2 linked regions of the Homo sapiens genome follow. The protein of the gene in region 2 purifies or fractionates together with the protein of the main gene of each other region. This does not show direct contact. Each region holds a gene or a part of one and is shown on either strand. Other genes may lie near its edges. The genes, in order: PRKAB1 and SLC9A5.

Evidence for each region.
Region 1: the proteins of SLC9A5 (region 2) and PRKAB1 purify together in Homo sapiens (affinity purification with mass spectrometry; 2 studies listed by BioGRID and IntAct, with this or other methods). This does not show direct contact.

Annotation. Positions count from the first base shown.
Region 1 is NC_000012.12:119,659,364-119,674,988, reverse strand, and holds the start of PRKAB1 (5'-AMP-activated protein kinase subunit beta-1), read right to left. Parts: upstream 6,857-15,625; 5' UTR 6,745-6,856; coding exon 6,586-6,744; intron 2,689-6,585; coding exon 2,525-2,688; intron 1,026-2,524; coding exon 932-1,025; intron 650-931; coding exon 535-649; exon of another isoform or gene 1-534. UniProt on the Homo sapiens protein: Non-catalytic subunit of AMP-activated protein kinase (AMPK), an energy sensor protein kinase that plays a key role in regulating cellular energy metabolism.
Region 2 is NC_000016.10:67,262,609-67,277,978, reverse strand, and holds the end of SLC9A5 (sodium/hydrogen exchanger 5 isoform 1 precursor), read right to left. Parts: exon of another isoform or gene 13,628-15,370; coding exon 13,457-13,627; exon of another isoform or gene 12,940-13,456; coding exon 12,873-12,939; exon of another isoform or gene 11,892-12,872; coding exon 11,754-11,891; intron 7,242-11,753; coding exon 6,769-7,241; 3' UTR 5,788-6,768; downstream 1-5,787. UniProt on the Homo sapiens protein: Plasma membrane Na(+)/H(+) antiporter. Mediates the electroneutral exchange of intracellular H(+) ions for extracellular Na(+) in 1:1 stoichiometry, thus regulating intracellular pH homeostasis, in particular in neural tissues.

The sequences.
Region 1 (15,625 bases), on a different chromosome or scaffold from region 2:
TACCAAATAGCTTCCCATCAAGGAGAGTTGGGCTGTGCAGGCTGTTTCCCGTGGGGAGCCGCATCCTCCCCAAAGGGATTCTGACAAGGTGCTAATGTACCACATAAGTGACTGCTAAGGTCACTGAGGTGTCCATTTACACCTGTCAGGCTGAAATTCTTCAGGCACCACAAGTGGGATGAGACACAGGCTTCCCCAGTGCTGGGCTGTCACTGACTCAGTGCCACCCTCCAGGGCCTCTTCAGCCCTGCCCTTGGCACGAGATCAAGCTATGGTTCCATTTCTGCTGTCTGCGTTCTGTGGCCAAGCAGACCTACTGAATACCTGAGATGACCAGGGAAATGACTTGTAGCTCCCTTAGGGCTAAATTTCAACAACCTGACAGGAATTAAGTTCTGTGGCCTTTAAGTGGGGGCTATAAATGCCTATCTGACTGGGCAGCTTCAGCTCAAGAGAGGCAAGAGAAACAAGAGTATGTCTAGACTGTACAGCCCCCACCTGCACGCATGTGGTATAAAATAACTGTGTTCATACCAGACACATCGGAGCACTTTTGGGAATCCACCATTAAAGCATCAAATACTTCAAAGTCAGTTTTCTTCACTTGAATGATGTTGTTAACTGTGCCAAGCTGGCTGGTTACTATGGGCTGGGAAGAGACAGATAGGCAGAAATCATAACGTGGAAGGTCTGCGGAGTTATTCTTCAGAGGACTTGGAATTCCTGGCTGGAAGGCCTCATCTCCTGGCTAGCCACCCTGCTCATCTTGGTCAAGTATGCCAACTGTCTGACAGGTAGTGCTGCTACTCAGCTCTGCCACACACGGGGACTTTTACTAGCTGGGCAAAGGGACCTAGCGGCAATCTCTTGGGAAGGTGATTTGTTTGGAATGTGCGGGCACCCAGAGGACCAGAGGTGGGAGGAAGAGTACCTCGGAAGGGTCGTGCGTCCACTGACCATCCACAAAGAACTTGTACTGATGCTCTCCTTCCGGCAGATCCAGGATGGCTACAAAGTTATTGTGGCTGCAAGGAAAAAGGAAGCAGAGGACTTCCGTGGGGTGGGCTGCCCCCCGAGCTTACTTGCCAAACCAGCTACAGAACAAAACGTTTCCACATAAAACCAAGAGTTCAGCTGCAGGAGAACAAACATTTTTAGCCCATTTAGACAATTCAGCATAATGACCTCAATCTGAAAAGGCTATAAGGAAGCAGCAGTGCGACACAGTTTCCTGAAAACTCACCTTACTCAAATACCAGGAAACCACATCCCTAATGTTAAAAGGTCAACAGTCAGGCATTTGTGCGTCTCAAGCTCGCAAGGCTCCTGGATGCCAAGGAGGATGACAACACAAGATAAACAGAAGCTGCCTCGTTTTACCCTTTGTCACTTTGCCTTGGGCAGGAGAAGGGATCAATTGAATAGGAAGCTCAAATGTTCTCTAAAGAAACTTGCCTAATGACTGAAAAACCAAACTCCGGAAGAGCCCCTTCACTGGGTTGTTTTGTCCCCTGGCTTGAACTGACCTGTGACTGCTGTGCTGAGTGGCTCCCTCCTTCTCCAATGGAAACGCTGGAAAGCAGGCAGCCCCTGACAATAGGCCTGACACTTTCTCCCTCATTTTATCAAGAATACTCACTAAAGGTGTTCTCTCACTGACAACTTAAGACAGAAGTCCATGCTGGGGTTCCTGATAAAATGTCTTACTATAATCCTTGCTAATGACACCTACATAGCATGTATTTTTCTTTTCTTTTTGGAGACAAAGTCTTGCTCTGTTGCCCAGGCTGGAGTGCAGTGGTGCAACCACTGCTCACTACAGCACTGACCTCTCAGGCTCAAACAATCCTCCCATCTCAGCCTCCCGAGTAGCTGGGGATACAGGTGTGCACCACCATGTCCAGCTAATTTTTAATTTTTTTGTAGAGATGGGGGTCTCACTATGTTGCCCAGGCTGGTCTTGAACTCCTAGCCTCAAGCAATCCTCCTGCCTCAGCCCCCAAAAGTGCTGAGATCATAGGCATGAGCCCCCATGCCCAGCCAACATGTACTTTTCAAACAAAGTATTACGCAGAGTCAAAGTTAGATGAAACCTCAGAGATGATCTGGTCCAATATTCCCTCTTTACAGAAACGAACGCTGAGGCTCAGGTTAACTAACGTTAGGTGACTGACAGCATGGCCAATGTGGGCTCAAATGTGGGTTTCTAAGATTCCAGCCCAGTGCTCCCTTACTGCATTAAGACAGATTTTTGTGTTTCTGTGGAAAAGTCCTGACCGAACAGATAGCTGAGGATCTGAAGTGAAAGATGTCTGTGACACAGAAATATTCTCTTTCTTCTGTACTCTAAACCTAGAGACCACCAAGGTTTAACATTTGAACCTTAAGACTTATTAAGCAAAATTATTTTTCCACTAGGCATCCATTTTATAGAAACATCCATTTTCTGTTCTCTCTCAGAGATGTTTTAGAAAGAAGAGAATTTATGTTAAGACAAATATGTGAACACTCCCCAGGCAATTACCTTCTGGTGAGGGGAAGTTTACTCCAGTTGTTGAAGGACCCAGATAAGTAAACTTCCTTTCCGCCCCCCGTCCATCGAAACACCGTTGGCCGAGCCTGGGCGGGAGCTTTATCATTCACTTCCAGATCATGCTGCCAGGCCAGGAATTCCTCCTTCTCTGGTGCCTAGAAGCAGAGCAGTTTACTCAGAAAGCCATAAGCGAGCTCCCTACAACAGACAATATTGACAATTCATTCTAAAGACGCAGCTGTTACTATCTTGGTTCATGGTTAGGATCGGAAACTTACTAGTGGTGCCTCAGTTTCCTTGCCTGCAAAATAGAAATATATTTTTTAAGGTTGTGAAGACTGAGACAGTCCATGTAAGTGCTCTATATAGTGTCTGACACAGTGAGTGCTAATTATTAGCTATTGTTGTCATTAAAGAAGTTGACATCAAAATTCTAGAAGAAGCTATGAAACACACTTGGAAGGGGCTACTACGAATCCAAGACTAGCTTAATGTCATGTTCCTCCCTTAATCAAGCAAGATTTGAAGTACAGTCATGTGCATGATGTCTTAGTCAACGACGGACTGTGTATATGGTAGTCCCATAAGATTATACCATATTTTTATTGTTATCTTTTCTATGTTTAGATACATTTAAGTACACAAATCCTTAAATATACTTGTGGAATAAGTGTCTACAGTATTCAGTAGAATAACATGCTGTACAGGTTTATAGTCCATAAGCAACAGGTTACACCATATAGACTAGGTGATACGGTTTGGCTCTGCGTCCCCACCCAAATCTCACCTTGAATTGTAATCCCCATAATCCCCACGTGTCAAGGGCAGGACCAGGTGGAGGTATCGATCATGGGGGCGGTTTCCCCATGCTGTTCTCTGACAGTGAGTGAGTCTCATGAGATCTGATGGTTTTATAAGCATCTGGCATTTCCCCTGCTTGCTCTCATTCTCTTCTGCCGTCCTGTGAAGAGGTGCCTTTTACCATGATTGTAAGTTTCCTAAGGCCTCCCCAGCCATGCGGAACTGAGTCAATTAAACCTCTTTTCTTTATAAATTACCCAGTCTCGGGTATTTCTACATAGTAGCATGAGAACAGACTAGGTTTGTGTAAGTACACTCTATGATGTTCACACAATGATAAAATCACCTAATGATGTATTTCTCAGAATATGTCCCTGTCATTAAGTGATGTATGACTGTACATGAAAATTTAAGAGGAACAATTCTAGAGCTGTCAACTTGAAAATAGGCAAATCCAGATTTTGAGGAAGGGAAAAACTACTCACAAAGTTCTGTCTAGGGACTGGGGAATAAAGCAAGACAAAGACTGAACCCTCATTAGGATAAATGATAACCTCCAGTGTGGTAAGCTCCGTATAACTGAGGTATTCCAGAATAAGAAATAAACTCATCCAAATCTATCTGGATGACATATGTAGTCATGCACCTTTTAGATTTTTTCCCAGTCAGAAGCCAAAGACTTAAAAAGAGCAGAAGGTTCAGGCTGGAAAAGACTCTTCAGGGAGTTAAGCAGGCTTCTAGCACCTTCATCTCAAATACCGACCTCAGCTTATCCAAATGATGCCTGTATTCTTTGAATTCTAACAAGATCTACATATTAAATAACAGACTGGAATCACTTCACACTAAGGATAACTAATTATGACCAAAATAGCACCCTAGTGTAGTTAAAAGAATTCACGACTTTTTTGGTATCTGGGGATTTCAGTAACTTCTAATGAAGTGAGAATGGACGCTGCTTGAAATCATTCCCCATAGATGATGTGTGTGCTCAACATTTCCTGGAGGAGTTTTGGAATAGTAACAGAACAAATACTTCTGAAGAAAGTAGTTTTGATTCCTTTGGTGTCTTAAATAGCCTTCTTGGGACCAGGGACCAAAATTACCTCCTGGGGAAAGGACGTCAAGTCATTAGAGAAACATGATTCTAAAGTTCACTTTGCACACAGCTCTTCAAGAATGCAACAAATTCAGAGAGCAAGTTCAAACCACAGGTTGTAGGGCCACATAAAAGCAGCCTCTTTGTAGTCAGGCTCAAAACTAAGATCCAAAAGAAGGTGTGAGATGTGATCACCTCGCTCAACATGAGGACAAACACAGATGGAATGAGCTGCCAAGCAATTAAATGGATGATGATTAACATGAAATTGGATACTAACAGGGTATGTTGGGCAGAGGGCAGCTTTATCTTTCCTAAACCTACTTTGTTCCTTGAAACAATTAGTTCCTTTTGGACATAACACATAAATACCAGCTGCCAGAATCACTAAGTGTCCTTGGACTGAGCCCTGCGGCTGGAAATATCCACCATATGAAGGTGGTTAACAGGAGTGTGGTTGAAGCAGGAGTTAAGTCACCTGAGTTTTTGAATTTAAACAGGCTGCAGCAGGAAGAAAAATGTTTGCACTGGCCTGCTTAAGCACGATTAAGTCATATTTAAACAACACTAGAGAGAAGTTCAGTAGCTGCTGGCTGCCTCCTTCAGACAGACCCTCACCGCCCACTGACCTCTAGAAGCTGAAAGACTTTTCTATGTACGCTTTAAAAAAAAGCAGGGTGAGGCCGGGAGTGGTGGCTCATGCCTGTAATCGCAGCACTTTGGGCGGCCCAGGCGGGCGGATCACTTGAGGTCAGGAGTTCAAGACCAACCTGGGCAACATGGCGAAACCCCACCTCTACCAAAAATACACAAAATTAGCCAGGCATGGTGGCACACGCCTGTAGTCCCAGCTACTCGGGAGGCTGAGGCAGGATGGTTTGAGTCCGGGAGACGAAGGTTGCAGTGCCCCGAGATTGTGCTACTGCCCTCCAGCCTGGGCAACAGAGTGAGACTCCATCTCAAAGAAGGAAAAAAAAAAAATAAGTAGGGTGGGTTCAGTGGCTCACGCCTGTAATCCCAGCACTTTGGGAGGCCGAGGCAGGCGGATCTCCTGAGGTCAGGAGATGGAGACCATCCTGGCTAACACGGTGAAACCCCGTCTCTACTAAAAATATAAAAAATTAGCCGGGCGTGGTGGCGGGTGCCTGTCGTCCCAGCTACTCGGGAGGCTGAGGCAGGAGAATGGCGTGAACCTAGGAGGCGGAGCTTGCAGTGAGCCGAGATCGCGCCACTGCACTCCAGCCTGGGCGACAGAGCGAGACTCGGTCTCAAAAAAAAAAAAAAGTAGGCTGAACCGGCCAGCACCGTAGCTCACGCCTGCGATCCCAGCACTTTGGGAGGCCAAGGCATAAAGATTGCTTGAACCCGGGAGTTCGAGACCAGCCTGGAGAACATTGTGAGACCACCGTCTTTTTTATTTTTATTTATATTTTTTTTTTGAGACGAAGTCTAGCTCTGTCGCCCAGGCTGGAGTGCAGTGGCGCGACCTCGGCTCACTGCAAGCTGCGCCTCCCGGGTTCACGCCATTCTCCTGCCTCAGCCTCCCGAGTAGCTGGGACCACAGGCGCCCGCCACCACGCCCGGCTAATTAGTGAGACCACCGTCTTTTAAAAAATAAGTAGGGTGAATCAAAAGTGTTGGGCAGAACTAAACACCTCTGGCAACTGCCGTCAGCTGTTCCGCTCTACTTTCAGCTTGTATATGTACCTGGTTTGCCTCCAAAATGGATAAATTCCCAAACTAACTTTTACAAAAGCTCCAGTTTGTGTAAAGGTGAGGGAATTTGTCTCAAAGCAGTGCAATTAATTACACCTAAGAGAAAAGCAGAAGCTGGGGCTCAATTACTGTTAGCTCGACTCTGAATTAATTAAGAATTTGAAACTCTGTCCCAGAGCTGCTTTCTCCTTAATGATGTTAAACCAAGTGAGCACCTCCTCCCTCAGGGTGACTTTCTCATATTGGTAATTAGACACAGGTTCTTGGACCGCTAAGAGAACTCTTACAGGACCATCTGGCTTTTAAGTGCACCGGGTAATGTACCACCTCCCTCTCCGTTCTGGTGTTTTTCGAAAGGATGTGACGGGAATCTAGTGGAGGGTTCCTCTCCTCAACATTAGTCAAGGGGAATCGGGTTCCTCCACACCGCTCGCACCTTGATTTCCTCGGAGTGGAAGAGGTCGGCGTCTTCGGGGCTGTCCATCAGGATCTTGGGCCTGTCCCCGTCCTTGGTGCCCCCCGAGCTGTCCCTCCGGGGCGTCTTATGGCCACCATGCCGCTCCAGCGCGGCGCGCTCACTGCTGGTATTGCCCATGATGGGGGTCTGCGGGGACACAGGGAAGGCGGACGGCGCCTCACTGCAGGAAAGGGACCCTGAGCAAGGGACTCCCGGAACCGCGGGTCCCAAGGAGCCTGCGGAAGGAGTCGGAGCACCAGGACACCACGCCCCTCGGGCCGGGAGCCGGTTCCGGCTGAGTCGGCAGGGTTGCCGAGCTCTCGCAATCGCGCTTTACCTGCCCAGGCAAGCCGCGGCAAGAACGCAAGGGGCGCGAAGATAAACCGACACTTTCCCAACCGCTTCACCACCCCTCAGCGACTTCCGCTTCCGGCGACTCCGTAAGTCGGCCCGGCCTAGGGCGTGGAGGTGGCGGCGGCCAGCTAAACGCGCGAGGCTATCTCGATTCCATTTCCGCTTCCGGTCTTGAGCGGTGCGGTAACAGGTGCCCCGGGCCGTCTCTGCAGGCCTCGGAGCGCGCAGTCGCAGTCAGCAGCCGGCCGCCCAGGGCCAGGCCCAGGACGAGGCGCTGCCGAGGGCCGGCAGGGGGCACCCCAGCGCGCGGGCAATCTGAGCCGTTCATGCGCTGGGCTGAATAATGCCATTTAGCTATCTTTGCTCACTTATAGTTGATTCTACACTCTGCAGCCAGAGGGATCTTTCTAAAATGCAAATCTGATTCAGAAACTCCACTTCTTAAAGCCCTTTTAATGCACGTGTTCTCACGCTTTACAGTGCATTAGGTTAACCTGGAGCGCTTGTTAAATGCATCCCCCACTGCAGACCTGCAGAATCATGATTTCTACAGATTAGGGTCGGGGGTGCAGGCAGTCTTGCAGGTATTTGAAAAAATGGCAGACCATAAGATCTCTGGAAATTTCTTATGTCTAGTAGGTTGGGGGTTGTAAAATGCTGGAGTTATTCGTGTATTTTTATTGAGTGTGCAATCTTTTGATAGGTAATTTTGCAAGATATCTTGTAATCACTTCGGAAACATCCTTCTGCATAAGATGCATTAGCGTTTGTCATTTACTCTGGTCAGTGCTTCAACAAGAAGTGCATACAAATACGGTAGTAAAATATTCTCATCTTCTCATTGTCAGTCATTGTCATATTTTGTGGGTTTTTTGGTGTGTGAATATCTCAAAATACTTTGCATTTGCCGGGTCAGGTCATGCATTTCACCCACTGAACATTTATTTAGTACCTAAAAAAGTACCAGACATTGTGCTAAGGAAATGAGGAACACAAGATGACTAAGATAAGGTTTCCTGGGGGGAATTCAGCAGTATGCATCAAAATTTAAAAATGCACCTTCATTTTGACACACAATTTTACTCCTAGGAAACTTGTGCAGAAATACACACATGAAAATTATTTACAAGCATTATCTACAAAATATTTACATGCAAAAATATATTCTAAGATGCACTTGTCACCCCCCATGCCCCCATATATTTTAATTTCTGAAACTGGATGCTTTTTACAATAATGGAATCTTACACTTGGTGAAATAAGGAAATGAAAAACTACAAAATCCTAAAAGTTGTTCAGTAGGAGAATGGCAAAATGAATGGAATACATTCATTTTGTAGAATACCAAGCAACTTTTAAAAAGGGAGAAACCATTTTTAGGTCACTATGGGGAAGTGTCTATGATATTGCAAGGTCCGGAAGCAAGTGAGAGAACAAGTTCAAGGGCAGGAGCTCTGAATTCAGCCTGGCCATGTTCAGATTCTGGCTTTACCATTTAGTAACTGTCACCTTAGTCTCTTCTTTTGTGAAATGGGAACAAAAATAACACCTACTTCATAGGCTTGTTTTGTGAATTAATTGGGAACGTGCATAAAAATGCTGAGCATAGCACTTGACTCTTAGTAAACACTCAATAACTGTTAACACTTTTATTAGCACTATTAGGCTAGCAAATGGAAAGTTCTGGAAGGGTATACAACACATTGTTAATAGTGGTCTTCTGTGGGGAGAGGAGGGAGATTGCAAATAGGAGCAGACAGAAAAGGGACTTTCACTTTTCATTTATATAGTTCTGTATTTGAAAAGTTTTCTATTGTGAGGATGTACTACTTTTTAATTTAAAAAAATAAGATATGGTTCCAGCCCCAAAGGAATTAATACAGTACAGGCTGGCACCGACCCACAGAAAAGCAATAATATAGCTAGGTAAGGGATCCTGTGGGAGCCCAGAAGGGACTTAAGCCAGGCCAGGAAAAGGGATGGGAGCCAGGAAAAGGGATGGGAGCCAGGAGGGTCTTCCTGAAGCTGATGACTGAGAATTTGAATGTATTCAGTATAATCAGAAATGTTGAATGTGCTTGCTGAATTAAATAAGCTAAGATACTGTGGATGACCCAGGATATCTTCTTTGAGCTGCTTTTCTAATAGTGGCCCTGACTTGGTTACATGAGACAGTGGGGTGTTGAGTTTTGAAATCTCTCCCAAACAGCCGGAGAGATAAGAAAGAACACATGAGCTGTGGATTCTTTATCTGAGCTATGCAGATGCTTTGATGCATGAAGAAAGTTTTAAGACATCTGCACTAGCTTGAATAAGATAACAGTGAAAGCATGGGTGGCCCTTGATGTCAAATACAATCAACAATATCCTGAGGATGCCACCAACTGCTGATTGGAAACTCTTACCACATTGTATCAAGATTTCATGACAAAGAAACTAACATTGGTATCTATCAGCTATTGACCCCATATTGAAAATCATGGGTAGGGTAGACTCGCCAATTACAAGTGTCTACTTGGGTCCCAGCTGTGTCTCTCTTGGGTCATTTTGTGTTACTTATCTGTGTAACAATGGTTTGTGACTTTCCTAAGCATCAGAGCGTCTCATCTTTCTCTGATTCTCTGCTGATATGGATGTCAGACCATTCCATCTTGGGGGCTGGAGGTGTGCCAGGAAGTATAACTGTTAGCACATTGCTGTGTAAAAGGCATCATCTACTCACTGCTGTCTGTCTGGCACCAGGGCAAAGACAAATGATAAATACCCTAGATTCTCCCCCAAACAAACCAGGGCAATTTTAACACAGCCACAGCTAGGAGTACCCCTCCCCCACCCCCGCAACCCTGGCTTCAAATTCACTCCAGCTCCAAGCACAAAAAGAAGTAGGTTTTCAAGTCCTTAAAAGTCACCCAGAGTGAGATAAAATCTCATTTATCCTTAAATTTATGATTAAAAGGGTTAAGGATAATGTTTTGGGGCCTCCTCCATAGGATGGATTAGAATCAGTATAGCACTTCTGAACTGACCAACCCATTTGTTTTATATAAGGAAGAGTCTAAGTCCCAGAGATCGAACAGTTTTGCCTGAGGTCACTCAGATGATCATAGGTCATACTGAGACTGAATTCTGGATCACCTGGCCACTCCCCACTACATCATGGTCATGGCACCTCATCAAAAAGACCTTTGGTTCCCCAGCTGGCCTGTCTACAAACATTTGTACTGTTCTGAAGAACCCTCCCCATCTAAGAACAGCCAGGGCTCTGATCACAAATAACTCAATGGCAATATTGAGTGCCAATTATGAGCCAGGCACTGTTGTAACTCTTGGTTACAACAGTGAACAAAACCAAGTTCTTGCCCTCCAGAGGAAAGAGTCCACACACATATGCACATGTGGTGAGAACAGGCAGTGTTCTCACTAAACATCGGTAGCTGGAGGAAGAAATTTCACATTTGGACTATGCTGTAGACTAAATTGTATCCCCCCAAAATTCATACATTTGCACTCCCACTCCCAATTTTATAATGTTTGGAGGTGGGGCCTTCAAGGGGTAATTAGGGTTAGATGAGCTCATGAGAGTGGGGCCCCCATGATGAGATCAGGGTACTTATGGGAAGAAGAGACGCTGGAGAGCTTGCTCGCATGCTGTCTATTCACGCCCATGCTCAATGGAAAGGCCATGTGATGACAAAGCAAGAAGGCGGCCATCTGCAACTCAGGGAAAGAGCCCTCACCACACATCAACCATCCTGGCACCCTGATTGTATTAGGCCATTCTTGTATTGCTATAAAGAAATATTTGAGGTTGAGTAAGTTATAAAGAAAAGAGGTTTACTTGGCTTATGGTTCTGTAGGCTGTACAGCAAGCATGGCTCTGGGTATCTGCTTGCTTCTGGTGAGGCCTCAGGAAGCCAAGGGGGAGCCGATGTATTGATGTATCACATGGCAAGAGTGGGAGTAAGAAAAAAAGTGGGAGGAGGTGCCGCACGCTTTTAAACAACCAGATCTTGTGAGGGCAGCACCAAGACGATGGTGCTACACTATTCATGAGAAGTCCACCTCCATGATGCAGTCACCTCCCACCATGTTGGAGGCCTCACCTCCAACATGGGATTACATTTCAGTGTAAGATTTAGGGGGAAAAGTATCCAAATTATATCACTGATATTAGACTTCCAGCTTTCGGACCTGGGAGAAGTAAATCTCTGTTGTTTAAGCCACCCAGTTGATGATTTGTTATAGCAGTCTGAGCTGACTAAGACAGACTCAAATGTGTGTGGGCTGCTAGGATAGAATTACAAGCTTACTTTTAGGGCTTAACCAGATTTCCACCAGGCCTTCTGAATTTTGCCTAGCCAATGTAAGTAACACTGCCAATGTTTGAGAAACTTGTCCATCTTTTCTTGCTAGACATTCTTGTGTTCTCTTTGCACTGAGATGTGAATATTGTGACAGAGAGTCATCAACATAGAATTAAAAGAAGTTCATTCTACAGCATTTGGTCTACAACCTTAATTGGCAAATAGCCTCATTTTGTGACTTTTAGGTTGTCTGAGAAAATTCTGTTTCTTGACCTGGGTTGGTAATTATTAACATGTTTGCCTTGTAGTAACTTACTAAGCCATACATTTCTTTTGTGTAGTTTCCTGTATCTTTATTTTATTTTCAATAAAGTTTTTTTTAAATAAATAGCTTCACTCACAGGGTAAGCTGAAACCTAGAAGGGAGAAGTGCCCAGTTCAAGGTAACACAATGTTCTTAATAAAGTTCACCTCAAGTCTATCCTCTTTTTTTTTTTTTTTGAGATGGAGTTTCACTCTTTTCACTCAGGCTGGAGTGCAGTGGTGCAATGTCGGCTCACTGCAACCTCCGTCTCCCGGGTTCAAGCGATTCTTCTGCCTCAGCCTCCCAAGTAGCTGGGACCACAGGCGCACCCCACCACGCCTGGCTACTTTTTGTATTTTTAGTAGAGACGGGGTTTCACCATGTTGGCCAGGCTGGTCTCAAACTCCTGACCTCAGGTGATCCACCCTCCTCGGCCTCCCAAAGTGCTGGGATTACAGGTGTGAGCCACTGCACCTGGCATCTCTATCCTCTTTTAAGAGCTTTGAAGGAATGGAGGAGAAAAGGATGTACACTTTCTACCCCTTTTCTAGAGGACAAGTGACAAACTAAAGCAGTATCCAGGCAAAGATCCAACGGAGGTGAAAACAATGAGAGGAAGTCTGTCTCTGTCTCATCTCTTTAAAATGTAAGCTCCCAGGGATTTGAATATCAAAGTTTCATAATCACTTTAACATATGCTGTTGGGACCATCATACCCCATCTGCATGTGCCCTTCTGCGCATGCCCCAAACTTCCTAACTGTGAGCAGGTGCAACTCTGAGGGCCTTCTGGAGAAAGCTTTGTCGACACAAGTGGGAACCCAAGGGGACCAGAGAAGACACCCTGAGAGAAGCCCTCAGCCAACCACAGAGGAGCCAGTTCCCTTGCCCCTTGGATGTGCTAACTCTAATGAAGCAGCGTCATTTTTCTGGGGTAACACCCGAGGTTCGATGTCTCATGCTAAGGAAATTGAAGACATGGCCATGCAAGGAGTGGGTTTAAGAGTGGAAAGTTAAATAGATGAAAGAAGGAAGAGAGCTTCCTCATGCAGAAGAAGGGGTCCTGAGTGGGTTTCCCTGGTTTGGGGCAAGGTGTGGTTGGTTTTAGGGATGAGCGTGAGGAGATGGTATATGATTTACATGGGGTGTAGTGGATTGGTTGGACCAGATGTGCCATTTTCATAGCCCGTGAAGAGGCTGGTCATCCCACTCTAATCTTTTATTATGCAAATGGAATTTTAAAAAACCTGGCTGGTGCCATGTTATCTGCACACGTGGCAACAAAGAAAAGGGAAGAGGGAACCTCCATGTTGAATATACCTGGTTTCCAGCTATCTGTTTTCTATTGGCACAGCTGCTGGTATTTACCTATGCAAGCCTCTAGCTTGCTTATCTATGCTTGCAGCTTGATTTTTCAGGCTGCTTTTTGTTAAAAAAAGAAATGATTTGGAGACTGCGTTTTTATTAAAAGAAAAACCTTACTGAGGACTCTCTTACCCTCACTAACTGTCTAAATAATTTCTTTTTAGCTCTCGTATAACTAAGATATATTCCCTACCGTGTCTCAGAGGTCCCCAGTGGAAATGCACCCTAGATGTCCACAGCAGTAATTGGATCAAGGAATTCATTGATTATCTTCCTTTCCTTTTCTTTATCTCTTTTTAGGAGCACCTTCCAAATAAATACTCAGAAACACCTCCCAAGACACACTAATTGCATGAAAATCCTAGTTCAACCACATAGGTTACAGATGAGGAGGGACAATAGCTTGCTGAATTATAGAAAAAGTTAGTGGTCATAGATCATAATTTGGATCTTATGTCTTGGTTTCTGGTCCAGGGTACTGTGAGATTATCATTCTTCTTGATATGATGAACCATGGAGACTTTTAAAAAACAGGGATCGGCAGCATTATCATAATAGACAGAAGGTGGAAAGAATCCAAATGTCCACCAAGAGATGAGTTTGTAGGCTGGCACAGTGGCTCATACCTGTAATCCTAGCACTTTGGGAGGCCGAGGTGGGTAGATCAACTTGGGGCCAGGAGTTCGAGACCGGCCTGGCTAACATGGTGAAACTCCATCTGTACTAAAAATACAAAAAATTAGCTGGTTGTAGTGGCGCACACCTGTAATCCCAGTTTATTGGGAGGCTGAGGCATGAGACTTGCTTCAGCCTGGGAGGCGAAGGTTGCAGTGAGCTGAGATTGTGCCACTGCACCCCAGCCTGGGCGACAGAGAAAGACTCTGTAACAACAATAACAAAATGAATTATAAACAAATTGTGGTATGTTCATACAGTGGAATATTCTTCTATCACAAAAAGGAATAAAGTACTGTTACATGTTACAATGTGGATGACCTCAAAAATATTAACATTATGCTAAGTGAAATAAGCCAGACACAAAAGGTCATATATTATATGATTCCATTTATATGAAATATACAGAATAGATATATCCATGTCAATAGAAAGCAGACTGGTGGTGACCACGGGCTTGGCGGAAGAGGGAATGAGGGCTTTCTTTTGGAATGATGAAAATGTTTTAAGACTTGGCATAGATGGTGGTTCCACAACATTGTCAATGTACTAAATGCCTATGAATTGTTCACTTAAAAATGTCTACTTTAAAATTAACATTTATGTTGTATGAATTTTACCTCAAAGAAAATAGGGTTAGTCCTAGAACAAATGGTAGAGGTGTACAGTTTATCTTTTTTCCAATTTATTTTCTGCAACTGTCTTACAAAATAAACCTCTCCGCACCCTGTCCTTCCCTGTAAGTGTCTCATGACTCATGTCATCTAGCCCATCAGAACCTAACTAGTTCATGGCACTTGTTCTAGTTAATATTGATTTTTTCAGAGGCCTTCAGTTTTCTAATTGCATTAATTCATTTCTTTATCAATAACTTTTTCATGGCAAAAACTCCTATCCACCGGGCACTGTGGTAGACACTGGGGAGAGAATTGTGGGCAAAATCAAACCCAGGCTCTGTCCTGAGTGTTTACGATCTAGTAGGGAAGAGAGAAATTAATCGAACAATCATCCAACAGTCTTCTGTGACAAACGCTAAGAAGGAGAAGTGTGACCTAGTGAGAAGGATGTGACCAAGTCCTGAGGTCAGAGGAGGCTTGCTGAAGGAAGTGACAATCAAGTTGAGATTTGGAGATTGTAGGTGTTAAAGTGAAAGTTGTTTATCAATCCTTATTATGCACTCGGCATTGTGTTTGATGTATGAACTCATGTAATGCCACCAACAGTCCTTTGAGGGATCTACTATTATTACCACTTGCATTTTTCAGGAGAAAATGAGGCTCAGAGAGATGAAGTGACTTATTCGAGGTCACACAACTAGAAAGTCATGAAACCAGCATTCAAATGCAGGCAACCAGACAGATGTCAACATTTTAGCCACCACGGACAGATCATTGAGTGAGGGATGAAATCATTTTGGGTGGGCCAATGGATTGGGCTGATCTAGATTATAAGTATAAAGCTGGAATGGTCATTCAGAGAGGGAGAACAAACTAGGTGTTCAATTGTTTTAATATCTATTAAATTTTCTAGGCTAGATGCAGTGGCTCTCAGCAGCTTGGGAGGCCGAGGCGGGAGGATAGCTTGAGTCCGGGAGTTTAAGACCAGCCTGAGCAAGCTGTCGAGACCCCATCTTTATTATATTTTAAAAAATAAAAATTAAAAAAATAAAAAATTTTCTAACTACGAATCCATGTTTGTTTTTTCTTTTCTTTTTTTTCAAAAGAGCATCAATTTCCCAACCATGTTTCTTATTGTTACAAAACTCAATAAAAATCTGAAAGTTGGAAGCCATGACTTGCTGGGTGTAACGTACTAATCAAGAAGGTGGAATCAATTATTAAATAGTCAATAGGGTTAACAGCAATGAGTGATCATGGCAGGCAATGCCCCTAGCATCCCCTAGGTGGCAATAAAGAGCAACAAAGATTATTCCTATGGCCTTTCAAAAAATTAAATGTATGTATTTTAAAGTATGGATGAACATGGTTAAAAACTTCAAGCAGTATGGGAGGGGGTAC
Region 2 (15,370 bases):
AAGAAGAGCCTCAAGCCACAGGCTATAGCTGACCTGGCACCCTGGGCACAGCAGGCAGATTCAGGGGAGGTACAGCCATACTGAGATAGAGGCAGGGCTGGGCCCTGGTTTCTCCACTCCACAGAGAATGTGCATTGTAGGCTTCATGGAAACAGAGACTGTATGTTATCCACTTCCGTACTTTCAGCATCCAGCACAGGGCCTGGCACAGAATAAATGCTTTGGGGCGCCTGACACTGATCACACTACCCCTGCCCTCCTGAGGCTCCACATCTATGTATCCCATGGAAACCAGAGTCACAAATGGAGACAGATTCAGAGACTCAGCCTGAAAGGAGACAGAAGAGGCCGAGAGCTACAGGTTGCATGGCCCAGGATGGCAAAGGTACAGATAGAAATGAGGACACACTGAGGCCTAGTGGGGAATATTGGGGAGCTGGGCCTGGAGCCAGCCAGGGGTGGCTGACCACAGCAGGCTTTGTGGGCTGAGCTTGCAGGACTGAGCAGTGACTCATGGGGCCCATCTCTGTGGCTCTCCTGGCAGCAGAATCAACTCACAGCAGCCTTTTCCACTGAGATCATAAAATGGGAATGGGCCTCCCTCCCCTGGCCCTTCCCCAACTCTCCCTCAGCCTCCCATTTCTTGCCAACATGACTCAATCAAAAATAAAATGGGCCGGGCACTGTGGCTTATGCCACAAAATCCCAGCACTTTGGGTGGCCAAGTCAGGCAGATCACCTGAGGTCGGGAGTTCCAGACTAGCTTGGCCAACATGGCAAAACCCCATCTCTACTAAAAATACAAAAACTAGCCAGATGTGGTGGCACATGCCTGTAATCCCAGCTACTTGAGAGGCTGAGGCAAGAGAATCACATGAACCTGGAAAGCAGGGGTTCCAGTGAGGCAAGATCACACCACTGCACTCCAGCCTGGGTGACAAAGCGAGACTCTGTCTCAAAAATAAATAAATAAATAAAAAGGAGGGGAGGGCTCTGGGCCTCACTGGGTCTAGTGACAACAGACCCACAGTCATTCACCTTGCACACCCCTCTTCAGTACTACCCCAAATACTGAGGGCAACAAATACCCCAGAACTTCCAGACCTCTCTTGCCTTTGGCCTAAATAAACTCCAAACTCCTTGGTATGACAGTCAAGGCCACTTAGAGGCATCACAGCCTTCCCATCTACCTCCCAGACTGGCCTGGAAAACAAATCTGATTACTAGTCTAGTCTCACACTGGCTCCTCTTCCTGAAGGCCCATGCCCATCTCCCCTAATCAAAATCCTTCCTCATTTGAGGCCTGGGTGCAGCATCTCCTTCACGAAGACTACCCCAGCCAAGTTCTCTCAGCTCAGGCCACCCTGCCCAGTCACATGGCAAGGACCCATGGATGAGCGCTTGACGCACTTGCTCTCCTGCATCCAAGTCACCTGCCTGCCTCCCTGTCAAACCCACCATGTTCATCTGCCCCCACCACTGCAACCTCCATCTCCTGGGCTCAAGTGATTCTCCTGCCTCAGCCTCCAGAGTAGCTGGGATTACAGGCATGCACCACCATGCCCAGCTAGTTTTTGTATTTTCAGTAGAGATGGAGTTTCAGCATGTTGGCCAGGCTGATCTCAAACTCCTGACCTCAAGGGATCCACCCGCCTTGGCCTACCAAAGTGCTGGGATTACAACCATGAGCCACCGCACCCGGCCCGACAAATAATGACATTTATGATCCCTTACCTTGAGCCAGGCCCTGGGTAGATTCTTCCCATTAAATTTTGTCATTTAATCCTGACAGCAGCCTTATGAAGTGAGTATGATTATCTCATTTGAGAGATGAGGACACTGAGGCTCAGAGAGAGCATGTAACACACCCAGAATGACACTTGTGAGTGACAGCTGGGGCTGTTGACTCTAAACTGTTGACTACGGCCGGGCGCAGTGGCTCATGCCTGTAATCCCAGCACTTTGGGAGGCCGAGGCGGGTGGATCACCTGAGGTCAGAAGTTCGAGACCAGCCTGGCCAACATAGCAAAACCCTGTCTCTACTAAAAATACAAAAAATTAGCCGGGCATGGTGGTGGGCACCTGTAATTCCAACTACTTGGGAGGCTGAAGCAGGAGAATTGCTTGAACCTGGGAGGCAGAGGTTATGAGCCAAGATCATACCATTGCACTCCAGCCTGAGTGACCTGACTGAGACTGTCTCAAAAAGAGTAAAAAATAAAAATTAAAAAAATAAACTGTTGACGACTAGTTAACTACGAGGCCTTATCACTGTGGCCTGTAAACAACCTAAGGGCAAAGCCCAAGTCACTCTTCCTTCTCATCACACCTTCCCTGCGCATAATGCAGAAAAAGTAAAGGTAAGTTGGCTAAAAGTATAACCTTCCAAGTGTGTCAAAAGTCCTTCAGATCCAGACAGCCAGAAAGTAGGTTAGTTATTACCTAGGGCTGAGGAGGGCCAGGGATGAGGACTGACTGCTAATGAGTACAGGGTTTTTTGGGGGATGATGAAAATGTTCTAAACTTAGATTGTGGTAAGGGCTGCACAACCCTATGGGTATATTCAAAACACTGAACTGTACACTTAAAATGGGTGAATTTTTATGGTATGTGACTTATATCTCAAATATATCTCAGCTACTCAGGAAGGCTGAGGTGGGAGAATCAGGAGAATAGCTTGAACCCAGAAGGCAGCGGTTGCAGTGAGCCGAGATTGCACCATTGCACTCCAGCCTGGGCAACAAGAGCGAAACTCCATCTCAAAAAAAAGAAAAAAAAAAAAAAAGAAATCCCTAGATAAGAGCAGTCCCAAATCCAATTCCCCTGGTGTCTAAAGGACTTAAAACAAAAACAAAAACTTTGGCCCAGCACAGTGGCTCACGCCTGTAATCCCAGCACTGTGGGAGGCCGAGGCAGGTGGATCACCTAAGGTCAAGAGTTCAAGACCAGCCTGGCCAACATGGTGAAACCCCATCTCTACTAAAAATAACAAAAATTAGCCAGGCATGGTGGCGCTCACCTGTAATCCCACCTACTCGGGAGGCTGAGGCAGGAGAATGGCTGGAACCCGGGAGGCAGAGGTTGCAGTGAGCCGAGATCGCACCACTGCACTCTAGTCAGTGCAGTGCAGTATATGTGTGTGTATATATATATATATATGTGTATATATATGTGTATATATGTATATATATGTGTGTATATATGTATATATGTGTGTATATATGTATATGTGTGTGTATGTGTGTGTATATATGTGTATATATGTGTGTGTATATATGTGTATATGTGTGTGTATATGTGTATATATGTGTGTATATGTGTATATACATGTGTGTGTATATATATGCGTATATATATGCGTGTGTATATATGTGTGTGTATGTGTGTGTGTGTATATATATATATATGGGGTTTTTTTGGTGTGTGTGTGTGTGTGTGTGTGTGTGTGTGTGTGTGTGTGTTTTGAGATGGAGTCTTGCTCTGTCACCCAGACTAGAGTGCAGTGGTGCGATCTTGGCTCACTGAAACCTCCGCCTCCCGGGTTGAAGCTATTCTTGTGCCTCAGCCTCCTGGGTAGCTGGGACTAAAGTTGCGAGTCATCACGCCCAGCTAATTTTTTGGATTTTTGGTAGAGACAGGGTCTTGCTATGCTGCCCGGGCTAGTCTTGAACTCCTGGCCTTAAGCGAACCGCCTGCCTTGGCCTCCCAAAGTGCTGGGATTATAGGTATGAGCCACTGTGCCCAGCTCTCAAAGATTTTTTTTTTTTAAGATGGAGTCTCTCTCTGCCCCCCAGGCTGGAGTACAGTGGCACGATCTCAGCTCACTGCAACCTCTGCCTCCCGGGTTCCAGCCATTCTCCTGCCTCAGCCTCCCGAGTAGGTGGGATTACAGGTGAGCGCCACCATGCCTGGCTAATTTTTGTTATTTTTAGTAGAGATGGGGTTTCACCATGTTGGCCAGGCTGGTCTTGAACTCTTGACCTTAGGTGATCCACCTGCCTCGGCCTCCCACAGTGCTGGGATTACAGGCGTGAGCCACTGTGCTGGGCCAAAGTTTTTGTTTTTGTTTTAAGTCCTTTAGACACCAGGGGAATTGGATTTGGGACTGCTCTTATCTAGGGATTTCTTTTTTTTCTTTTTTTTTCTTTTTTTTGAGATGGAGTTTTGCTCTTGTTGCCCAGGCTGGAGTGCAATGGTGCAATCTCGGCTCACTGCAACCGCTGCCTTCTGGGTTCAAGCTATTCTCCTGAGTTCAGGTGATTCTCCCACCTCAGCCTTCCTGAGTAGCTGGGATTACAGGCGTGTGTCACCACACCCAGCTAATTTTGTATTTTTAGTAGAGACTGGGTTTCTCCATGTTGGTCAGGCTGGTCTCGAACTCCCAACCTCAGGTGATCCACTCACCTTGGCCTCCCAAAATGCTGGGATTACAGGCATGAGCCACTGTGCCCGGCCATCTAGGGATTTCTATTCATGTTTCTGGACCCCACACTATCTGATTTGCATCATAAACACTCAGAGATGGCCAGGTGAGGTGGCTCACACCTGTAATTCCAACACTTGAGGAGGTCAAAGCAGGAGGATTATTTGAGGTCAGGAGTTCAAGAACAGCCTGAGCAACATTGTGAGGCCCTACCTCCAGGAAAAAAAAATATATATATTATATAATATATATAATATATATTATATAATATATAATTATATAATATTATATATTTATTATATATAATATATATTATATATTATATATTTATTATATATAATATATATTATATATATTATATATTATATTAATATATAATATATAATATATATTATTATATATATTATATATAATTATATATATATATGCCAGGCACAGTGGCTTACACCTGTAATCCCAGCACTTCGGGAGGCTGAGGCAGGCAGATCACTTGAGGTCAGGAGTTCGAGACCAGCCTGGCCAACGTGGTGAAACTCTGTCTCTACTAAAAATACAAAAAATTAGCCAGGCATGGTGGCATGTGCCTCTAGTCCCAGCTACTCAGGAGACTGAGGCAGAATTGCTTGAACCCAAGAGGCAGAGGTTGCAGTAAGCCGAGATCATGCCACTGTACTCTAGCCTGGGTGACAGAGTGAGATCCTGTTTCTAAAAATAAATAAATATAATAAAAACAAAAACTAAAAATTTAGCAGGCATGGTGGTACACACCTGTAGTCCTAGCTACTTGGGAGACTGTGCCGAGAATATTCCTAGAGCCCAGGGGTTCCAGGCTGCAGTGAGCTATGATTGTGACACTGCACTCCAGCCTGGGTGATAGAACAAAATCCTGTCTCCAAAAATAAAAAATAAACACGGTAACCAAATCCCGTGAGCCCTTGAGATTGCCTTCCTGTCTGTCATGTGCAAAAGGCCACCTCTGTTCATGTGTCCTGTACCTGCATCCAGGTTTTCAAGAAATGCTCATCTGGTCCTAGGTGTGTGGTGGCTGCATCAGGACAGCTTGGCACCTGACCTCTGGGGTCTTTCCCTGCTAGCCTTTCTCATTTTGCAGACTTTTAGTTCTGTGACTCGATGCCAAAACAGTGATCCCCTTGACCACCACTGCAGGACCCCTGCTAAGGGGACAATATTGGAAAAGTATTGGGGAATGCATGACAGGGGACCAGAAGGATGAATAGTCCTGCCTAGGATTCCCCTCCATTCTCAATCCCTGGGGCAGGCAGTTGGGTTCTCACCTCCTTCACCAGATGCCCCTGTTGCCCCCCACCCTAAGAACCCCCTGACACATGGACACAAGACACCCATCCATCTGAGAGATGTTTAATATATCTTAGGTTCAAGGTACAAAACACAGGGCAGGTGCTGATCCCTAGAAAGTCACCTGCCACCCTGTCAGCCCCTGCTTAGCCAGGCATCCCAGCCCCCAGAGCAATGGAGCAGTGGCCCTGAGATGCTGGGTTCCTTCTCTGTTTGGGGAATGTTCAGGTGGTGACATGGCAGCCCAGAGGCCACTATGTCCCCTCCTCAAAAAACCCAGACCCAAGGATCAGAAAGGTCTAGACTTAGACCCAGAGCAGCAGATCCCAGGGTGACCCCAGTTAAGCAACAGGCCTGAACTGAAGCCTGGCCCAGCCTCTTGGCCTTGGTCTTGGAAAAGGAGGAAATATTACCCCAATACCTGGCAGCAAAGGGAAGGGGCTAAAGCAGGAAGTGGAGGCAGAGGTTCCCACTGCCCTAAAAAAATGGACTATGGGTAGCTGACCCAACAGGGCAGCAAAGCCCAAGGGTGAGGCCTGCCCCACCTCCCACCCCAGTTCCTCTAAGGGCCAGCCCCTCACGGAGCCTCACTGCCAGGACACCACTGACCCAGTGCTGGGGAGGGAGTTGGGGCAGGGAAGGCTGGCATCCACTGAAGAATAGGAATGATGCTCTTGCTTTGCGGGCAGGAGCAGCTGCCTATAGAGTCCCCGGGAAAACCCACTAGGGAAGGGGGACCAGCAACCCAAGTCTCTGGGCCTAGCCCGTAGAAGGCCTGGACTGGGTCCTGAGCCAGAGTAGAGGCCTTAATGAAACAGAAAGTGGCAGGGGTTAGGAGCAGGGAGGTGGTGAGAAAGGCCCCTGTGAGGACCAGCTTAGGTGACCCCTCTGACTAGCTCCAAGGAAGCCCAATTACTACTTCAACCCAGGCCCTTCTGGCCCCATGTCAAGTTTCGAGGGCTCTACCCATCACCCAGGGAGCACTTCCCACAGGGATTCCACCTCCTGCTCCTCCCCGAGGCCTTGAGCTACAGCCGGCTGCCTCTGTTGAACTGGATGCACCAGTGGGAGGTAGCGGTGCCTGGGCTGAGATGGGTGTGGTCCTTGTGGCCCATGAGGGGCTGCAGCTCCTGCTGCTGGGGGAGGTCAGCGCTGCTCTCACTGCGAGAGCGGCCAGCCTTGGCCAGGCTCGGTGGGAAGGCGAAGCTAGAGCGTGGATCAGAAGGTAGGTGGAGAGGGACCTGGGGCTCTTCAGTGCCCCGTGGATGGGGAGGCAGGCAGGTCAGAATTGGGGCCTGGTTACAGGGAGGGGACGCTAGGCTCTCCAGGGATGAGATGCTCTGGTTCCAACCCGTCTGCATGTCCACAGGCACAATCTTGGTGGTTTCCGAGGACACGTACACTGCCAGGTCCCCCTGCCCACTCTTCCAGGGGAGCTCCTTTTCTGCACAGGTTGGGGAGGGGGGAATGATTCGTGGGCTTGGGCACACCTCAAGGCTTCCTGGGGACAGAGAGTACACATGAACTCATTACCAATACAGTGGAAATCTCAAGTATAAGCACATTCTTATAAATTCATGCCACAGTTTCCATATGCCGTCCATTTTTGCGATTATCGGATGAATGTCTTGCTGAGGCGAAGTACCACAGCTTGTTTTACTCTCCACTCTATCCCCAACACCTAGCACAGGGCCGGGCACACAGTAGTTGCTCAAGAAATTGAACATTATTTTCATCAAAGAAACGAAAATAAGGAAAGTTGGCTTATGGCTCATGCCGTAATCCCAGCACTTTGGGAGGCCAAGGTGGTGGATCACCTGAGCTCAGGAGTTAGTGACCAGCCTGGCCAACATGATGAAACCCTGTCTCTACTAAAAATACAAAAATTAGCCAAGCACAGTGGCACACGCCTGTAATCCCAGGTACTCGGGAGGCTGAGGCAAGAGAATCACTTGAACCCGGGAGGCAGAGGTTGCAATGAGCCGAGATCTCGCCACTGCACTCCAGCCTGGGTGAAAGAGTGAGACTCTATATAAAAAATAAATAAAAATAAAAAATAAGAAGATAGCAAAAGCAGGAGCCAGGCAGGAAGCCCCATCTCCAGTCCCCTCACCCTACTGCAGCACTGGTCTCTGAAACAGCCTCCTGCCAAGCCCCATCCCAGCCAACCAGCGAGGGAGAAACGCCAGCCACCAGAGAGGGAAAGAAAGACCTGGAGGCTACAGGCCAAAGGTTTTTCTGCTGAGCATCCTGCCTGAGTACCCACCACAGCCCTTTGGTGGGACAAAGCCCAGGAGTGTGAGCTCATGCAAACCTAACAGCAGGCCAGAGCTTTGCCGCAAAGGGGATGACGAGGCATAGGGGACCTGAGCTAAGAATCCCAGAACTGCAGGGGCGGGGCTGAATTACAGGAAATCTGAGGTTCTGAAGGAGGAAACCTGGAAAGAGAATTCCTCTGGCCACCAACCACCCCAGCTCTCCAAAGTACAGTACAGCCTGTATCTGTTCATCGATAAAGTCCTGAGCAGCCCAATAAGCTTCTGTTTGAGTACATGTGTGAAATGTATTGATGCTATGATTAAAAGTAAAATGGTATCTCTTGAAAGACCTGGAATATTAAAATGCGATAACAACAACAAAAAGTGTAAAACAAAAAACCTTTGGTATTCACCTTTACAGGCTGCTAGGGAATGAATTCTTTGGTCTGAAAACTGATAAATGAAAGAATCAAGCATTTACTGGGTGAACTGTACCTCAAAGTAACCAAATAATTGATGAGGCGAGGTTTTTTGTTTTTTTGTTTGTTTGAGATGGAGTCTTGCTCTGTCACCTAGGCTAGAGTGTAGAGGCACGATCTCAGCTCACTGCAGTCTCCACCTCTCAGGTTCAAGCTATTCTCCCATCTCAGCCTCCAGAGTAGCTGGGATTACAGGTGCCCACCACCATGCCTAGCTAATTTTTTTTTTTTCGTATTTTTAGTAGAGACAGGTTTTCACCATGTTGGCCAGACTGGTCTCAAACTCCTGACCTCAGGTGATCTGCACACCTTGGCCTCCCGAAGTGCTGGAATTATAGGTGTGAGCCACTGCCTGTGGATTTACTGGTTTAAAGGAAATTTAAGAGACAGAGAAACATATTAAATGACACTTTGGGGATGCAACCAACAAAATCCAGACAGAGAAAGACTGTAGGACAAATAAGCAGGTTTCTTCAGTAAATACATCGTGAAGAAAAAAAAGTAGGGGGTTTGGGGGAAACTATGGATCAGGGTTTATCAAAGTTGACACTTGACATTTTGGGACAGCTACTCCTTTGCTGGTGAGGGTTGTCCTGTTCATTGTAGGATGTTTAGCAGCATCCCTGGCCTCTACCCCTCCATCCAAGGCCATCCTCCCCAGTTGTGACAACCAAAAATGTCTCTGGGCATTGCCAAATGTCCCCTGGGGGAGCAAAATCACTCCACCACCATCCCCCTGGAGAATCACTGCTATAGGTTAAAAGGGACATTGGACAAGCCTACTGTAAAAATATATATATATATATATATATATATATATATATATATATATATATATATATAATCAGGGAAATTTGAACGATGTTTGATGACAGATTTTTAGATATGGGAAAGGCATTGTGGTTACATATTTTTTAAAGAATCCTTTTTTCTTCCCCAAGAGACAGAGTGTTGTTCTGTTGCCCAGGCTGGAGTGTAGTGGCGTGATCATAGCTCACTGCAGCCTCAGCCTCCTGGGGTCAATTGACTAGAGGCATGCATCAGGAATCCTTATCTGAGGCCGGGTGGAGTGGCTTGAGCCCAAGAGGTTGAGGAAGCAGTGAGTCATGATCCGGCCACTGCACTCTTGCTTGGGTGTCAAAGAGAGATCCTAACTCAAAAAAAAAAAAAAAAAAATCCTTATCTGGCTGGGCATGGTAGTTCACGCCTTTCATCTCATCACTTTAGGAGGCTGAGAAGTAAAGATCACTTGAGCTCAGGACTTTAAGACTAGCCTGGGCAACATAACAAGGCCTCATCTCTACCAGAAAAAAAAAAAAAAAAAAGGCTGGGCATGATGGTGTGTGCCTGTAGTCCCAGCTACTCGGGAGGCTAAGGCAAAAGGACTGCTTAAGTCGGGGCATTCAAGGCTGCAGTGAGCTATGATCGCACCACTGCACTCCAGCCTGGGTGACAGAGAGAGACCATCTTGAAAGAAAAAAAAAGAATCCTTATATTTTAGAGACATGTACTGAAGTATTTATTGATAAAGTGATATGATATTTGAGACTTGCATCAAAGGAACCCAGTGGAGGGTGGGGCATAGGTGAGGTTTAGGTGAAATAAGATTGGCTATGAGTAGGTAATTATTGAAGCTGGATAATGGATAGATGGGAGTTTATTTTATAGTTCTATCATTGTATATTTTGAAATTTTCTATAATAAAAAATGTTTAAAGACACTTGAGGGTGCCAACCACCAGTGATACTAACAATATGAGTGAATTAGGTCTCTATACATACAGAAAAATGCTTATATACTGTATTTTTGTCCACAATAACTCCATTTTGATGAATTCAGGCTGCTCCTCCAGGTCAGGCTGCCACCTTCACCTGGGGATCTACTTGAGGGCATGGGTCTCAACAGAGCCCATGGTTTGCTCACCACCTCCTATTCCTCACTAGACTACAAAGGGAGGCAGCATGGCCTTGAAAGGGTGTGGGTGGGCACGGTGGCTGACACCTGCAATCCCAGCATTTTGGGAGGCCAAGGAGGGAAGACTGCCAGGAGTTTGAGACCAGCCTGGGCAACACAGTGAAACCTCATCTCTACAAACAATTTTTAAAAATCAGCTGGGTGCTGAGCACGGTGGCTCATGCCTGTAATCCCAGCACTTTGGGAGGCCGAGGAGGGCAGATCACCTGAGGTCAGGAGTTCGAAACCAGCCTGACCAACATGGAGACACCCCATCTCTACTAAAAATACAAAATTAGCTGGGTGTGGTGGCGCATGCCTGTAATCCCAGCTACTCGGGAGGCGGAGGCAGAAGAATCACTTGAACCCGAGAGGCAGAGGTTGCCATGACCTGAGTCACACCATTACACTCCAGCCTGGGCAACAAGAGCAAAACCCCGTAGCAAAAAAAAAAAAAAAAAAAAAAACAACAGCTGGGTGTGCTAGTGCACACCGGTAGTCCCAACTACTCGGGAAGCTGAGGTGGGAGGATCACTTGAGCCCTGGAGATCAAGGCTGCAGTGAGCCATGATCATGCCATTGTGCAATCCATGATCCAGCCTGGGTGACAGAGTGAGATCCTGTCTCAAAAAAAAAAAAGAAAAAGAAAAAAAAGATTATAGCAATGCAAGAATGGCATTTAAAAAAAAAAAAAAAAAGAAAAGAATAGGCCGGGCATGGTGGCTCACGCCTGTAATCCCAGCACTTTGGGAGACCAAGGTGGGTGGATCACCTGAGGTCAGGAGTTCAAGACCAGCCTGGCCAACATGGTGAAACCCCATCTCCACTAAAAATATGAAAATTAGCCAGGCGTGGGGGTGCACGTCTGTAATCCCAGCTACTAGGGAGGCTGAGGCAGGAGAATTGCTTGAACCCGGGAGCCAGAGGTTGCAGTGAGCTGAGATCGCACCACTGCACTCCAGCCTGGATGACAAGAGCAAAACTCTGTCTCAAATAAAATAAAATAAATTTAAAAATTAAAAAAAGAAAGGCTGTGGGCTTGGGAGTCAGATGAGTCAGGTTCAAATTCTGGTTCTACTATGTGATGCTGGACAAGTCACAAGTCTCTTAAGCTCTCTAAGCTCAGTTTCCCCATCTTGGTTGTTGTGAGGGTTGAATATTACCTATGTCGGGCATCTGGTATGAAGAAGAGGCTCTGCAAATGCTGGCTGATGAATAAACTAGTGAATAGGAAAAGGGAGTTGTCTGGAGTAGAGGCCATGAGTGAAGAGAGAGGAAACCAGCTTGCTCCAGAGGGGAGGTGGGCAGGGAGGAAGCCATTACCTGAGACCTTGCCCTCTTGGAGAACCTCACTGGTGGCACGAGCCACAAAGATGATCCCCTCATCGTCCTCCTTCTCTGTCTCTGAACTGTCGCTCTCCTCCTCCTCCTCCTCAGACTCCACGGTTAATATCACAGCAGCTGGACAGAGACAAGAGCAGAGTCAGGCATCCTGGGCTGGCAGCTGCCTGTTGGGACTACACAGCCCCAAGCCAGCTCCCTGTCTCCCTAGGCAGAACACACGTTGGCAGAGACACTTGCTTTCTCCTCTGGCTGTTTCAAGCACTGGCCTAAGAGGTGGGGACTTGGGAGGAAGAGAACTGACATTGCGGAGCCCAAGGAAGCGACCAGAGGAAGCTAAGTCCCCGGAGGAAGTCATGAGGACCACACTTTCCAGCTCCCCCATCCTCTTCTTTCAGCCCCAAATCCCACGATCCACTGGAAACATGAGCACTTGGATTGCTGGAAGGCCCATTAACATTCAGCTCATACAAAACTGGCTTTGCAGCCAGGTGCGGTGGCTCACACCTGTAATCCCAACACTTTGGGAAGCTGAGGCAGGCGGATCACCTGAGGTTAGGCATTCAAGACCAGCCAGGCCAACAATGCGAAACCCTGTCTCTACCAAAAATACAAAAAAAAATTAGCCAGGTGTGGTGGCGTGCACATGTAATCCCAGCTACTTGGGAGGCTGAGGCAGAAGAATCACTTGAACCCAGGAGGCAGAGGTTGCAGTGAGCCGAGATGGCACCACTGCACTCTAGCTTGTCAGAGTGAGACTCTGTCTCAAAAAAACAAAACAAAATTGGCTTTGCAGACAGGACACTGGGCCCCAGAGTCCACCCATCCTCCAAGGCCCAGACCAAACTCCCCCATCTCCATGACACATTTTCCAAGTCCTCGGGGCCTGTAACCCATAGTTAGCAATCAGATGCCTCCTGTCACGCATTGTCTAATAACTGCTTTGAACATTTCCAACTTGGAAATCAAGTCCCTGGAGGAAGAGCCCCAGGTCACGGTGCTGAATGCACCCTACAGCGGGTCCTCCAGGATTCTGGCTGGCAAGCCCCAGCCCTTTCCCTCCTCCCTCCCATCCTCAATCCCACACTGCTCCCTGCTTGCCTGTGTCCTGAAAGCCCAGGCCTCGATGTTTCCCATTTGTAGCCTCAGCATTCGCCACACCATCCTTCTGAGGACCAAGAAAGAAAACCTGAGCCTCTGGCCCCGGCTTCCCACCCCAACCCTGTCATCTGGTGGGGTCAACAGGACAAGTTTTCCTAACCCAGCAGGGGAGGGAATTTATGTCAGTCCCAGTGGTTCTACCATCCCTTGGCCAACCAGGCAAGAGTGACCCATGCCCCAGTAAGAAATCTGGATGCATCAGCGTGGGCTGACTTAGGAGCTCATGGAGTTGCCCCTCAAAGGAATCTCCTTTTCTCCTGCCTTTTTCATCTTTGGTAGGCGGCCCTGCTGCCTCCCAGCAGGTGACCACATGGCCAAGAGGCTGCTCCCCCTCTGAAGGTCTCACCTTACCCTTCTGGGACTCCAGGAACATCTAAAAGGGAACCCAAACTGCTGTAGTCATCAAGCCCCTGAGGACTGTCCCAACTGGGGTTCCCCCTAAGCTGGATCCTAACACTAGGGGGCTCAAAACTGCTTGCTGTCAGCCTCCAGCTCCCAAGAGGAGTCCCTGAGGGAAGACATGCCTTCCTGCGGCCAGTCTTGCGGGGTCGTGGCTTGCTCTTGGTGAAGCAGATGTTGTGCTTGGTGGACTTAAAGGACTCCAGCCGCCGCTTCATGTTCTGCTGGAAGACCTCCTTGTCCTGCCGCTCCTGCGCATCCTCTGAGATGAAGTGGCGACTGCAGCTGGCTTTGTACTGGCAATGACAGCCCCGCCTGGCTATGAGGATGGATGCCTTGGCCTCCCACAAGAACCCCAGGCCACAGCCCCAACATATTCACCACAGGACCTGCCAGCCCAGCTTTTCCAGAATTAACAATGGATTGAAAAACAAAACAAAAAATACAACAGGAACCCAGCCAGAGACCCTGTGTTCTCAGTTCCCTGGGAAAAGCTTCCCTTTATCCCAGAACTTATTCCCCCAAACCTGGCCTTCCCCAACCCTTGCCATCCTTTCCCGATTCTCTCTGGTTTGAAGGTGACCCTCTGTCTTGTTCTACTACTGTGACAACATGGGGGACATTTTCTTTGTACCTCCATTTATCTGAGCTTCGCCCACACACCCAGCCTACCTGCCCCCTTCTAGCTACACAGGATCCTTTCTCCAGCTGGAATCTCCTATCTAGCCATTTCTACAAGAACCACCATGATATCCTGGGCTGCACTTTGAACTTTCATAACTATCTCCCCTGACACCCTGGACCTTCTCAGTCCCAATAATTCAGGATCACCCCCATCATCTGCTTTTTTTTTTCTTTTTTTTGAGACGGAGTTTTGCTCTTGTCACCCAGGCTGGAGTGCAATGGCACGATCTCTGCTCACTGCAACCCCCGCCTCTGGGGTTCAAGCAATTCTCCTGCCTCAGCCTCCCGAGTAGCTGGGATTACAGGTGCCTGCCATCACACCCGGCCAATTTTTGTATTTTTAGTAGAGACAGGGTTTCACCATGTTGCCAGGCTAGTCTCGAACTCCTGACCTCAAGTGATCTGCCTGCCTTGGCCTCCCAAAGTCCTGGGATTACAGGCATGAGCCACTGCGCCTGGCCATGCTCTTTTTAACTCTTATCAACACCAAGCCCGCTACACACTCACCTAGACTGCCTCTGCCTCTACCCTCCTTGCTTAGCACCTTTTCATCATCTAGTGGTAATCCCCTGAAATGCTTCCCAGTGCCTGCCAAATCATCTTATCTTGCCTCAAATCCCAAGTCTGGTCCCTTTATCTCATATTTTCTGCTTCCCTGAACCAGTTCTAAGAGCCCCCTTCAAGTCTTCCATCTGCCCTCCTCATCTACCTATGCACCAGGAGGTACCCTCTCTCCTGGGGAGAAGGGGTCCATCTCCTTCACAAGGCTCATTGCTGCCCAGCCCCGGCCTCCACATTGCTCAGTTCCCTCCTTCCTGCCTCCAGCAGTTCCTGCTGCCTCCTATTCCTCCACTCTCCTGTATCTTCACTCCTTACCTCACCACTTGGCTCCCTCCCCTCTGTTTTCAAGCTCCTGCCCTTGCCTCCTTAAAGAAAGTCTTCCCTTGAACACCATTGTCTCCCTTTTGCTGCTACACTTTTATAATTTGATTCTGACACTTTCTCTCCTACCCACTATTTCCTTAAAAACCAGAAATGCAACTCCAGGGTCCACAACTCCACAGTGCTGCCTTCTTGCTGGTCACCAGTGCTGTGGGCTCTGCCTAGGTGCTGGCCAGGCCTCTGCGCAGCATCCAGCCCTCTTTCTGCCCCAGGCCTGAGGCACCACCTGCCACTGCTTCTCCAAGGGTTCCTTGTCTTTGGCTCTCTTTCCTTTTCTCCCATGCGCACTCCTCAGTGTTATCCTTAGCCCTCCTCCCGCCCCATGAAACACTCTCCTCAGAGAACTTATCCATTCTCTCTGCCCCAGCTATCCCAGTGATACAGATCTGTGGTCCCCCAACATCAGTCATCAG